Regions from separate parts of the Homo sapiens genome. Here region 1 is linked to region 2. The links come from fine-mapping of genetic effects on gene expression. A gene starts in region 2. The other region holds a variant in brackets. All regions are shown on one strand. Distances are from middle to middle.

What was found. PIP is the estimated chance that this variant, and not a neighbour inherited with it, causes the effect. A credible set is the group of variants that fine-mapping cannot tell apart.
Region 1: its variant is the best candidate, but not a certain one, in a credible set for the expression of CCDC183-AS1 in whole blood (TOPMed, PIP 0.56).

The regions. Positions count from the first base shown.
Region 1 is chr9:136,718,119-136,723,476 of GRCh38, reverse strand. It overlaps DIPK1B (divergent protein kinase domain 1B), which reads right to left. Exons shown (of 5, transcript NM_152421.4): 3 at 1,449-1,556; 4 at 1,176-1,352; 5 at 1-515. It overlaps LOC124900276 (cuticle collagen 2-like), which reads left to right. Exons shown (of 5, transcript XM_047424334.1): 5 at 1-5,358. The coding sequence starts at 3,202. The coding sequence ends at 4,137. Among named protein-coding and RNA genes, the nearest start is that of SNORA17B, 5.4 kb to the left of the region's middle. RefSeq lists an enhancer at 3,988-4,037. The variant T/C (reference allele first, on the strand shown) is at 2,586.
Region 2 is chr9:136,805,570-136,810,927 of GRCh38, reverse strand. CCDC183-AS1 (CCDC183 antisense RNA 1) reads left to right here and starts at 2,080. Exons shown (of 5, transcript NR_024580.1): 1 at 2,080-2,201; 2 at 3,726-4,099; 3 at 4,391-4,543; 4 at 4,800-4,878; 5 at 5,344-5,358. It overlaps CCDC183 (coiled-coil domain containing 183), which reads right to left. Exons shown (of 14, transcript NM_001039374.5): 10 at 4,690-4,850; 11 at 4,256-4,424; 12 at 4,061-4,171; 13 at 3,862-3,958; 14 at 3,187-3,356. The coding sequence ends at 3,238. RABL6 (RAB, member RAS oncogene family like 6) reads right to left here and starts at 2,980. Exons shown (of 15, transcript NM_024718.5): 1 at 2,602-2,980. The coding sequence starts at 2,731. It also overlaps the pseudogene LOC100422233. RefSeq lists silencers at 2,169-2,698, 2,709-2,838, 2,859-2,918, 2,969-3,138, 3,339-3,568 and enhancers at 2,844-3,440, 3,441-4,036.

The sequences.
Region 1 (5,358 bases), 87 kb after region 2:
CGGCGGCCCTGCAGGAAGCGGCGCACGGTGGCCTCGGGTGCCACCTGCTGCAGGTCGGCCATCTTGAAGTCGTAGGTGGCTGTGTAGCCCACGTTGGCCAGTGTGGTCTCACACATGTAGAAAGTCCCGTAAGAGCCGTGGAAGAGCTCCTCCACGAACTCCAGCAGGCCGATGGCGATCTTGGCCCGCCAAGGCCACGCAGGCCCCAGCCACTGCTGGAGAGCACCCTGCAGGGCAGGCGGCAGCAGTGGGCGCAACAGGGGTGGAAGGGCGGCCGCGTGCCAGGCGCCATGCGGCACGCCCTCGGTGAGGTAGAGGTCCCCACAGTAGCCCAGCAGTCTGGAGGCGTGCTCCTTCTCCTGCAGGGACAGCAGCAGCAGGAACTCGTTACGCTGCAGCAGGGCCCACACGGACTTGGCTTCCGCCAGGGACACCCGGTTGTCCTTGTTGAAGTCAGCCATGAGCAGGACCTGGCCAACCAGCGCCGGCAGGGAAGGCAGGTCTCCCAGGTTCGCCTGGCGTTTGGGACCAAAAGAAAGGAAAAGCCAGCTGATTTGATGTCTGGGAGCACGACCTGGCCTTTACCTGGTCCTCCTGGCGGGGTGGTCTGCCGGCCAGACCAGCACATCTGCCAGGTTAGGGGTCCCAGCCCACAGCTACACGGGTGGAGGACGCAGCCAGCAATGTGTCAGCTCACTCTGCTGGCCTGTGTGGCTGCTGCCAGACAGACCTCCCGCCTCCTGGCAGCCTTGGGTGCACCTGGGGAGCTCGGGGGTGGGCACCTGGGCAGAGAAGCCTCAGAGCTTCCCTGAGGATGAGAATCGGCACAGGGCAGAGGGCACGCACTGGCTGAAGCCCTGGGAAGCGGCCCCTTTCCACAAGCCCTGGTCTCCATTCGGGGCACCTGCCCTGCTGGACACACGGCCCTTGACTGCAGGAGCCTCCCCTCGACCTCAGCTGCCAGCCCACCGGCGCCCCCAACCCTTGCCCCCAGCCCTGGAGAGGCTCCTTCCCTGGCAGGGCTCATGCCCAGGGGCTGGGGGATGGGAGGTCTGCCCAGGGTCCACTTGGGCCCATCTGTGCCTTTGCGCTGGGCATGTTGGTGCCAGGGCCGCCTGCTGGGCATATGACCGTGGTGTGGACTCCTGCCCTGCCCCCTAGGAGAGCTGCCTGACCTTGAGGAAGCTGAGGGTCATCTCCCGGAATTCCTTGATGGAGGTGCCCCGGGTGGGCTTGTCAAACAGTACCAGCTCCCGCCGGGGGGCCGCATCCGACCGGGCCTTGGAGTCGAGGGTCTCCTCAATGCCACACTTGATGGTTACATCCTTGTCCCGCCAGAGCCCGCTGTACACCTGGACAGGGCCACAGAGGTCCTCCGTGCAGACATCCCCCTCCCACTGCACGGGCAGTATCAGCCCCAGGCCCACCCGCCCTGCCAGTGGCTATACCTGCTGGCCCGGGGCCACCGAGAGGCAGGTCCTCCACTCCACCATATGCAGCTCACACAGGTCCTGGCAGACGGAGCCCGAGATGATCCCCTTGCGGTACTGGTCACACTGAGGAGACAGGTGCAGGCGTGCCGGGCGGGGCAGCCACACCCCTGCCCCACTGAGCCCCTGCCCACAGGCCCGAAGCTGGCAGGGGCCTCCACTTGCTGCAGTTGGAAAGCTGCCAGCCCCTCACACAGGCAGTGCCGGGGCCCTGGGTCATGCCATTGGTGGCTGCAGGATGGGGCTGTCGGCTGCAGGGGCAGCCCCGCCAACCCTCCGGTCCGGTCCCGTCCCCACCATCCTGGCTCCTGTAACAGGACGGCACAGCAAAGGCCACTGCCTGGACATGAGACACACACCACACCCAGTGTCGACCCCACGCCAGGGCCAGAGGCAGGAACCTGGAGGCAGCTCTCCGCCCAGCCGACCCAGCTCTGGACCATCCAGGCATTGGCCGGTGAACTAGAATTCACACTAGTCCCTAATATCTACACCACCAGCTGCCACACGCGCGCTCTCTGCCTGACTCTTCATTCCTGCCTCGGGTGACGCCAGGAGGGAGGATGCACCCCCTGACTCATGGCGCCCTCCCTGCCCGGAATAGTAAGTGAGACATTTCTGAACTTGTTTCCTATGATGGTGCTGACTGGACTGCGTCTTCCATCTGAAGGGCCAGGAGCTGCCCCACCCAGGCAGGGCTTTCCCTGGGACGCCAGGAAGAACAAAAGGGTGGGCTCTTGGTGCCAGAGCGATGGATGGTCAGGCTGGCAGAACCTGGACAGGAGTCAGACACGAGCCATAGGGCCTCTGTCAGAGAAGCAACCCCCTGGACACAGGGCAAACAGCTGGGTGTCATCCCGTGAAGGGCACCGCGTCCAGCCCCTCTGCTCCCCGTCAGGGCGGGCTGCCAGCCATTCTGCACTGGGCACTCATGGGGGCTCTCACGACAGATCCTGATGCCCAGAGCCACACCTGCATGGCAGCTTCTGGCTGGGTTTCCACTAATCTCAGGTGTGGGTCTCCTCCTGTCCCAAGGACTTGGCCTCCCTCTTTGGCCCGGCCCAGCCTTCCCCAGGCTGAGGCAGGAGGACAGGC[T/C]GCGGCCTCACTGTTTGCCTCAAGTGCAGCCAGGACAGGGCTCACCACCAGAGCTGACAGTCTCAAGGGTACCCCTGGGGTGGAGCCGGCAACGGAGCCCCAGCCTCTACCTCCTCTCCCAGCCCTCCGAGGCCAGTGCCCAGGCTCAAGCGCTCCGTTGTCAGAGCTGTTTGTCAAGGCTGAGAAAACGGACCCCTGGGGCCCCACAATGACTCCGGGCCTGTCCTTCCCTGTCCCACAGGCCCCCTCCTTAGCCAGACCCCCAGGGAGACTTTGTTAGCAGTAATTACATCAGGCCTGGGGCTGGCTGCCGCCCCTCCTCAGCCCCCACCCTAGCTCCAGGGGCCTGGCAGCCCCTCAATCCCAGCGCCCCACGGGAGGTGATGGAGGGATGGAGCTGGCCCGCCCCTCTGGGGGGGGGAGAATTCCTGGATGTACAGCCTCAGTTGCCATGGAGCCTGGCCAAGCAGGCTTGGAGGGAGCTGGGGAAGGGAGCTGCGGAACACCCCGCCCTCCAGGGTTGGGGAGGAGGGAGGGTCCCCGCCCCCCACACACCAAGGATGGGGACAGAAGTGAGATGGGCCAACTGGAGGCCGAGGACCCCGCCACGTGAGTCATGAAGGCAGCGTCTGTCCCGGCAGCAAGAAAACGCCGGCTCTTCGTCAAGACAGAAAAGGAAAATGAAGGAAAACTGCACACTTGTCCAACCCTCCACCTTGCAGGCAGGCCCTTTGCCACCGGAGTCCACTCCCGTCCCCAGACCAGCCAGCTCCCTGCACCCAGAGCCCCAGACCACACAGCCCCTGCACCCGGAACCCCAGACCAGCCCCCTGCACCCGGAGCCCCAGACCAGCCCCTGCGCCTGGAACCCCAGACCACACAGCCCCCTGAACCCAGAGCCCCAGACCAGCCCCTGCACCCGGAGCCCCAGCCCACACAGCCCCCTGCACCCGGAGCCCCAGACCACACAGCCCCCTGCACTCGGAGCCCCAGATCACACAGCCCCTGCGCCCGGAGCCCCAGACCAGCCCCTGTGCCCGGAGCCCCAGGACCGCAGGAGGCTGCCCTGCTCCTGGCACACAGTGGTGCTGGGGAAGGAGCCTGTGGGCCACACTGCTGTCTGCCAGGCTGGGGCTGGGGCTGGGGCTCCAGGGTCCCCCAGGGGTGGGGAGATGGAGCTGCCTCCATGGTCCTGGGCACCTACCAGCACCTAGCAGAGTGTGGAGAGGCTTCCTCAGAGGCTGAGGCGGGCGTGTGCTTGGCCTCCTCAGGGCCCTTGCCGCACATCGGTCCCCTCACCGCCCAGCCTGTTCCCCGCCTGCAGCAGGGCTCAGTGGGGACTCACGGTCTAGTTCTTGGCCTCGCGAGGGCCCTGGTGGAAGCTGGGACTGGCCCTGCACTGCTGCTGCCTCGTTGTGTGCGCTGGGCCAGCCTCTGCGCCTCTCTGAGGCGTCCAATGCCCCCACGAGGCCGGGCAGGGAACCTCCTCTGGGAAGGAGGGGACGTCTCCATGGCCCCTGGGGTGGCTTCGGGAGAGCTGGGCTTGGCCTGACCTCTGGGAAGGCTCTGAGCAGCCAGGGAAACCCCCACTGGGCAAAGGGCCAGGGCACCCTGGGAAACCGACGCTGCAGCTTCCTCTTGTTTGTGGGGGCACCTCCTCCTGCTTTGCGGCCCGGCACCCAGTAGGTGCTCAGAACCTGCCTGGCCACGTGAATCCTCTGCTCACCCCCACCCGCCCCCACCCACAACATCCCGGCCCGGAGGTCCGGCCCCTCCACCTCCTTGGTCCTTCTAGGAGCTCCAGGGGTGCATCTGATCGGGGCACAGCCTTCCCCACCCATGGCCCCAGGACGAGCCCCATGTGCCACCCTCCGGCCCTGCTGGGCTCAGAGGCCCCCTGGACTTCAAGGGTGAGCAAGGCCTGGTCCAGGGGCCCGGAGGCCTCCCCTGGGCTGGCATGGGCTCCAAACAAGTCCTGGGCACAGAAGCTCTCCTAGCTCCGGACCCCACACCCCAGTCCTCCACTGCCACATCTGGGCCTTTCCACATGTGGCCCCCGTCAGACATGGCTCTGTGGGACACAGGCCTGCCCAGGCCCACCCGGCTAGCTTCATCCACCACCCAGTTGCCAGGAGAGGTGCTCTCCCCATCTGACGGAGGAGACACCGAACCTGGGGTCTCCCTGCACCCAATCACCCTATGACAACCCACAGTGGCCGCTGCTACAGGCCAGATCCTTCTATGCCCAGGCCTGACCCCAAGGGGAGTGGAGGCATCGGAACCCTGGTCATCGGGCAGCCTGGGGTCAAAATTCAGTGGGGGACCTGCCCAGTTCTGGGCGAGTCTAGGGTTTGCCAGGAAGACAGAGCTGGGATGACCTCCCCTCTGAGCTAGTCACAGGGTGTGGAGAGGGGCAGGGGGTCACCTTGGTGTGCACTCATGTGGACACGTTTGCTCCCAGACACACACATGCTCACATACGCCAGGGGACTTAGCCCTATCTCCCTGAGGTGGAGGCTGTGGAGGACCTTGCCCTGCCACCTGCCTCAGGGGACCCCTGGTCCCAGGGGGGCTAGCGAGGCCACTAAGGCCAGCACACGGGGGTCTCTATCCCGGACCAGTGAGGCCAGCACACGGGGGTCTCTATCCCGGACCAGTGAGGCCAGCACACAGTGGTCTCTATCCTGGACCAGTGAGGCCAGCACACGGTGGTCTCTATCCCAGGCCAGTGAGGCCAGCACACGGGGGTCGCTATCCTGGACCAGTGAGGCCA
Region 2 (5,358 bases):
TCTCACCCCCAAAACCCTCGACTCTGTCTTGATCACATTGCTGGTCTGTTACGCTCTGTAAAATATTTGAGAAAATAAATACCAGAAAGCCGGGCATGGTGGCTTACGCCTGTAATCCCAGCACTTTGAGAGGCTGAGGCGGGCAGATCACGAGGTCAGGAGATTGAGACCATCCTGGCTAACACGGTGAAATCCTGCCTCTACTAAAAATACAAAAAATTAGCCGGGCGTGGTGGCCGGTGCCTATAGTCCCAGCTACTCGGGAGGCTGAAGCAGGAGAATGGTGTGAACCCGGGAGGAGGAGCTTGCAGTGAGCTGAGATCACGCCACTGCACTCCAGCCTGGGAGACACAGCAAAACGCAAAACTCTGTCTCAAAAAAGAAAAGAAAAGAAAAGAAATACTAGAAACTTTCTATTCTAACACAGAAACTCAAAAGTTTTAAAATTGCATGTTATTCAGCTATAAAGATAACATCTTTCTAAAATGTAATTTAGGTACAAATTCAAATTTCTCTCTGTCTCACCACCTTTCATTCAGTTCTAGGAGATCATAACCTGTTCTCCAAGTACTGGAGACTGGCTTTTCTCCTCTGGAAGGACCCCATTGCCCTTTTTAGTCACACTCGCCCAGGACCACACAGGGGTGGTCCTGGTGCATGAGGTGGACCTTGCCCAGGACCCTCGGGGAGCCTTTTCAGAAGGTGAACAGTTTCCAGGTCCAGGCCTGATTTCCCAGGGACTAATACTGAGCTTAGCCAATACTGTAAGCAATAAAATTAAATAAAGGATCCAAACGCAGAGTCTAAAAACTGGCGTAAACTCAGTTATTTTGACTCAATATTCTCTTCTCCGAATGCCAGCTATGTATAAAGTTTCAATTATAACACATTTAAAATCAGCTTTTATTTTTATTCAAAATGCACCACTTTATTTTCCTTACCAGACAGCCAAGCATTAAGCACGTTCCAGTCACGTGACTTCTTCAGCGAGCCCCCAGGCTTCCACTCCACGGGAGTCTGGGAGCTCCTGGACAGAGGAGTCCTGAGATTTCAAATAGTCAAGCCTTCTCCCCAGCCACAAGTTCCTTTGATGCTTGGGTTACTGAACACAAACGCAATGGATTGTTTGTCTTCAACATAATCCGTTTCTGTTCCTAAACGTGTTGGCTGCGCTTTCTTTCTGATGAGCACGCTGACTCTAATTTGAACTTCATCAAAATCTTCTTTGTCGTCGTATGTTCTAGAGTATAAGAAAAGCCAATACGGCCCTTGGTTCGGACATCAACTTTCTTTTAAATTTTTTTTTCGTATTTTTAGTAGAGACGGTGTTTCACTATGTTGGCCAGGCTGGTCTCGAATTCCTGACCTCGTGATCTGCCCGCCTTGGCCTCCCAAAGTGCTGGGATTACAGGCATGAGCCACCGTGCCCGGCCCGGACACCAACTTTCATACCTAGATGCTCAGACTTATCTTTAAGAAGTTGTTTTATCTTGCTTACTGCTAAAGGTGTCTGGGTGAGGGTGGCCCGAGTGGTCTGCAGCTTCCTCTTGCTCACAGGCCGGGGGACTAAGGAAGGCGACATCTTCACTGTCCTCCTGGACTAGCTCCAGCCCCAGGAACTACGGCCTCTCTCCGTGCACACGGCACGCGAATTCATGAACTTGCTTTTAAACCTGCACAAGAGTCTTTCTGATCATTAGTTCTTAAAATTCTACATTACCATGGAAATATCACGGAGGCTCTAAGGCTCCCCTTAAAGTGACCAAAAAACTGGATAGGCGTAGCGTCCTAAAACCTCATAGAAACATACGGAAATGGCTAAGAGGGAAGCAATGTCAAAACAGGGAACCACATAAAAGCTTTCAAAAACTACTGGGAAAGAGCCCGCAAGATGGAAAAACTCATAAGAGGTCGAGGACAATTTACACAATTTATAACAAAGGAATGGAGCGTCCCAGGCACTCAGGAGTCCGTAAATGACTCCTCCTTCCTACGAGAAATGGGATGTCTCCTACAGTCGCAAGTCAGCCCGTGCCTTCTGGAGCTTTTCTAGATACGTCTCTTACAAACGCTTCTTTTAAAAAAAAAGGCGAGAATGTGTGGCGTAGCTAATATTCTGTCTTCAAACTCAGTAGGAAGTCAACAAAGAAAAATCCCGCTGAAAGCGCCAAGGCCGGCTGGGTTCCCCGCACCTCCTGCAGGTGAGTGGTGCCCGGGGCTGGGCACCGTGGAGCGTCGGGGGCGCGGCGCCCCGGGCCGGCGGGCCCTGCTTGGCATTATGTAATCACCCCCGGGCCGGGCAGCCGGGCCAACCCCGCCGCCGCCGACCCGCTCCACTGCACAGCGCGGCGGGAGCGACACGCGGCAGGCGAGTGCGGCTGGGAAACGACCCGCGGCTCGGGGGCCGCGAGGACCCGGCCCTGGCCTGGCCTCTCCTCGCGTCCCCTGGCCCGCGCCCCCGCTCCCGGAGCGCCCGGCGGGCCCAGCGCACCCCACAACCGGCAAGCAGGTGAGACCGACACCCACCACCGCGCGGCGCCCGGGGCCTGGGTTCGGAGACCCGCGCGGCGCTCCCGCGCCCCCCCGGCCCGCCGCACTCACTGTTGTACTGCACCCCCTTGGCGAAGCGCCTCTGCAACGCCTGGTTCATGGACTGCAGCCCGGCGGGGATGTTCTTGTCCCGGCCCGGGGCCTGGTCCGACCCCACCAGCTTCTTCAGGGCGGAAAACATCTTCCCGCTCGGACGTCCCAGCCCGGGCGCGGCCGGCGAGCTCAGCGGCGGCGGGGAAGGGGTGCGACTGGCACCATGTCCCGGCGGCCCCGGCCCCCCCGGAGGCCGGAGCCGGCGCGGCCAGAGGCCGGGGTCCCGGCGGCGGAGCGCAGCCCCGAGCGGCGACTCGGGAACCTCAGCCGCGGCTGCTCCGCTCCGGCCCCCGCGGCCTCCGGCGCGACCGCTCTCCAGGAGTCAGCGCCGCCATCTTGGCGCCGGCTCGGCGGGACGGGAGGGGTGCGCGGCTACGGGGCGCCGCGAGGGCCGCGGGGGCGCGGCGCGCGCGGTCGGCGCATGCGCACGCGGTTCTGGCGCGCAGTTCCGGGCCCGGGCTGCCTCCTTACGCAGAACCTCCCCCGATCCTGCGTGTCCCGTGCTCCTCTCCGAGACCCCGGTCGCCCCAGCGTCCGCAGCAGTCCTGGAAAAATGTTTATTTGTGTAGCAAAGCAGGGAGCGGGGCGGCGGGGCTACTTCTTCTTTTTCTTGGCCGCCTTGAGCTTCCCCTCGATTAGCCGCTGCGCCTGCCTCTTGATCTCGGCGCGCGAAGGGACGTAGCTGTGGTCCATGTCGGGGAACTGGAAGGTGTCTGCGGGCGGAGGCGGCGGCTCGCACACGGGGCTAGCCCAGCTAGGCGCAGCCGCCCGACCCGCCTCTCGCCCCCGCCCTCCACCGACCCGGGCCAGGTGCCTTGCCCCAGGGACAGCCCCAGCGTGCCGGGAGGACTCAGCCCAGCCCATTCGCAGCGGCTCACGCTGCCCTGCCTAGCCTTTCCCGCAGAACCCCCAGTGGAAGCTCCGGCCCAGGCCTTCACCGCGCTCCTCCCTGCTCCAGCCCTGGTGCCTCTCCTCCGGGCCCGTCTGGCATGGCATGCCTCCTCCTTTCGGAGAAATTAACAAGGTATTTCAGTGGCTTTAGCCTCCCCATGGCATCACTAAGTCACCTCCATCAATTAAAGTCCTGCAGGTACAACTGATGCACCCTGTAGCCCCGCTGTCCCTCCAGGATGTCCCGGTGGGATGGGAGCCGGCGCCACCCCGACCTGTGTTCCAGCCACCCGCCTGCAGCCCGGGCCCCAGTTCCGGGGCCTGTACCGATCATATCCTCCTCCCGGTTCTCAAAGCTGATCCTGGTGTTGTACTTCTCCATCAGAGTCGAGGACTCCAGGGTGTCCCTCACCTTTGTGTCGCCCTGCAGGGCAAAGCCCCCTTCAGCCGTGCAGACACTCTGAACGGGAGCCTGTCAGCTTTGAGGGGACGTGGGCTGTGCAGGTTCCTCCCAGCCCGGGGCTACCTCCTCGGTCCTGGACACCATCTGCACTCTGTCAGCCAGGTACGTGAGCTTCCCCTCGCAGTACGCCAGCTTGCTGTTCAAATCGAGGGTGTTGGAGAGCACCACTTCTCTCTGTAGGCCGGGAGGAGGGTCTCATCTCCCCTCTGGCCCTGCCCAGGGACCTGGTGTGTGGCAGCTCAGCCTCACTCCCGGTACCTGGGTCGCAGGCAAGTTAATGCCCATCAGCCGGACATAGAGGTTGTCGATGCCCATCTGGATGGTCAGCAGCAGCTCCTGGCCCTTGGTCATGTTGCTGTGCGCCAGCTGGAGCCTCTCTTCTTCCTCTTTTAGCATGTCTGTCATTTTCTTCTCAACGGACTTGAAGCTGCAGAAGGCAATAGGGACACAGCAGTGAGGGGCACAGGCCCGAGAGCCATGGTGGGCCACCCAGGAGCCCAGTCCTGAGTTGGGTGCTGTGCCAGAATCAGGGACTCAGAAGCTCAGGTGTGTGCAAGTGGAGTCCCCTGGCCCCTCTGTGGGACACACAGGCTTGTTGGCAGTGGGTATACTCCCAGCTCCCAGCCTGGCTGCAGCCCGGGGCCTTTGTGAGACTGGGGTGGGTGGCCCGCAGCCCCGGAAGCCCGGGGCACCTGATGGAGCTAGGCTTCTGGCGGAACTTGAGCACGGCCTCCTCCAGCTCCAGCTGCTTCACCAGGGCCTTCAGCTGCACCCGCCACTCCTCACAGTCCTCCATCTGCAGCTCCAGGTTCTCCTCCGTGTTCCTCTGGGCCAGGAAGCGGCTAGTGATGTCCTGGCCAGTCCGGGGGAGAGAGAAGCAGGTGTGGGCCAGGATGGTGGGCAGAGGGGGCTTCACAGAACTGGTTTCTTCTGGGCCCCTCCTAGACGCTAGTGCACTTTCTCTGTGCTCATTCACAAGTGTGATCACAGCTCACTGCAGCCTCAACCTCCCAGACTCAAGCGATCCTCCCACCTCAGCTTCCTGAGTAGCTGGGACCACAGGTGTGCACCACCACACTTAGCAGGGGTGAAGCGCTTTGTGGATGTCATTGCACACGACCCTAATGGCAGGCAGAGAGGGTAGATAACCCCATGTAGAGATAAGGAGATCATCACTGAAGGACGTTGTGTCACTTGAGTCACTTGTCTGACAGTGGACAAGCTTGTGTCAGGGCAGTGGTTAGGAGCTCAAGGCCTAATAATAATAAACGCAGATACACAGATGGGATTAAGATAAAAGGATTTGGGGCGGCCGAGGGAGTTGCCACTTTGTGTGTCCATTTCAGAGTGCCTCAGACCCC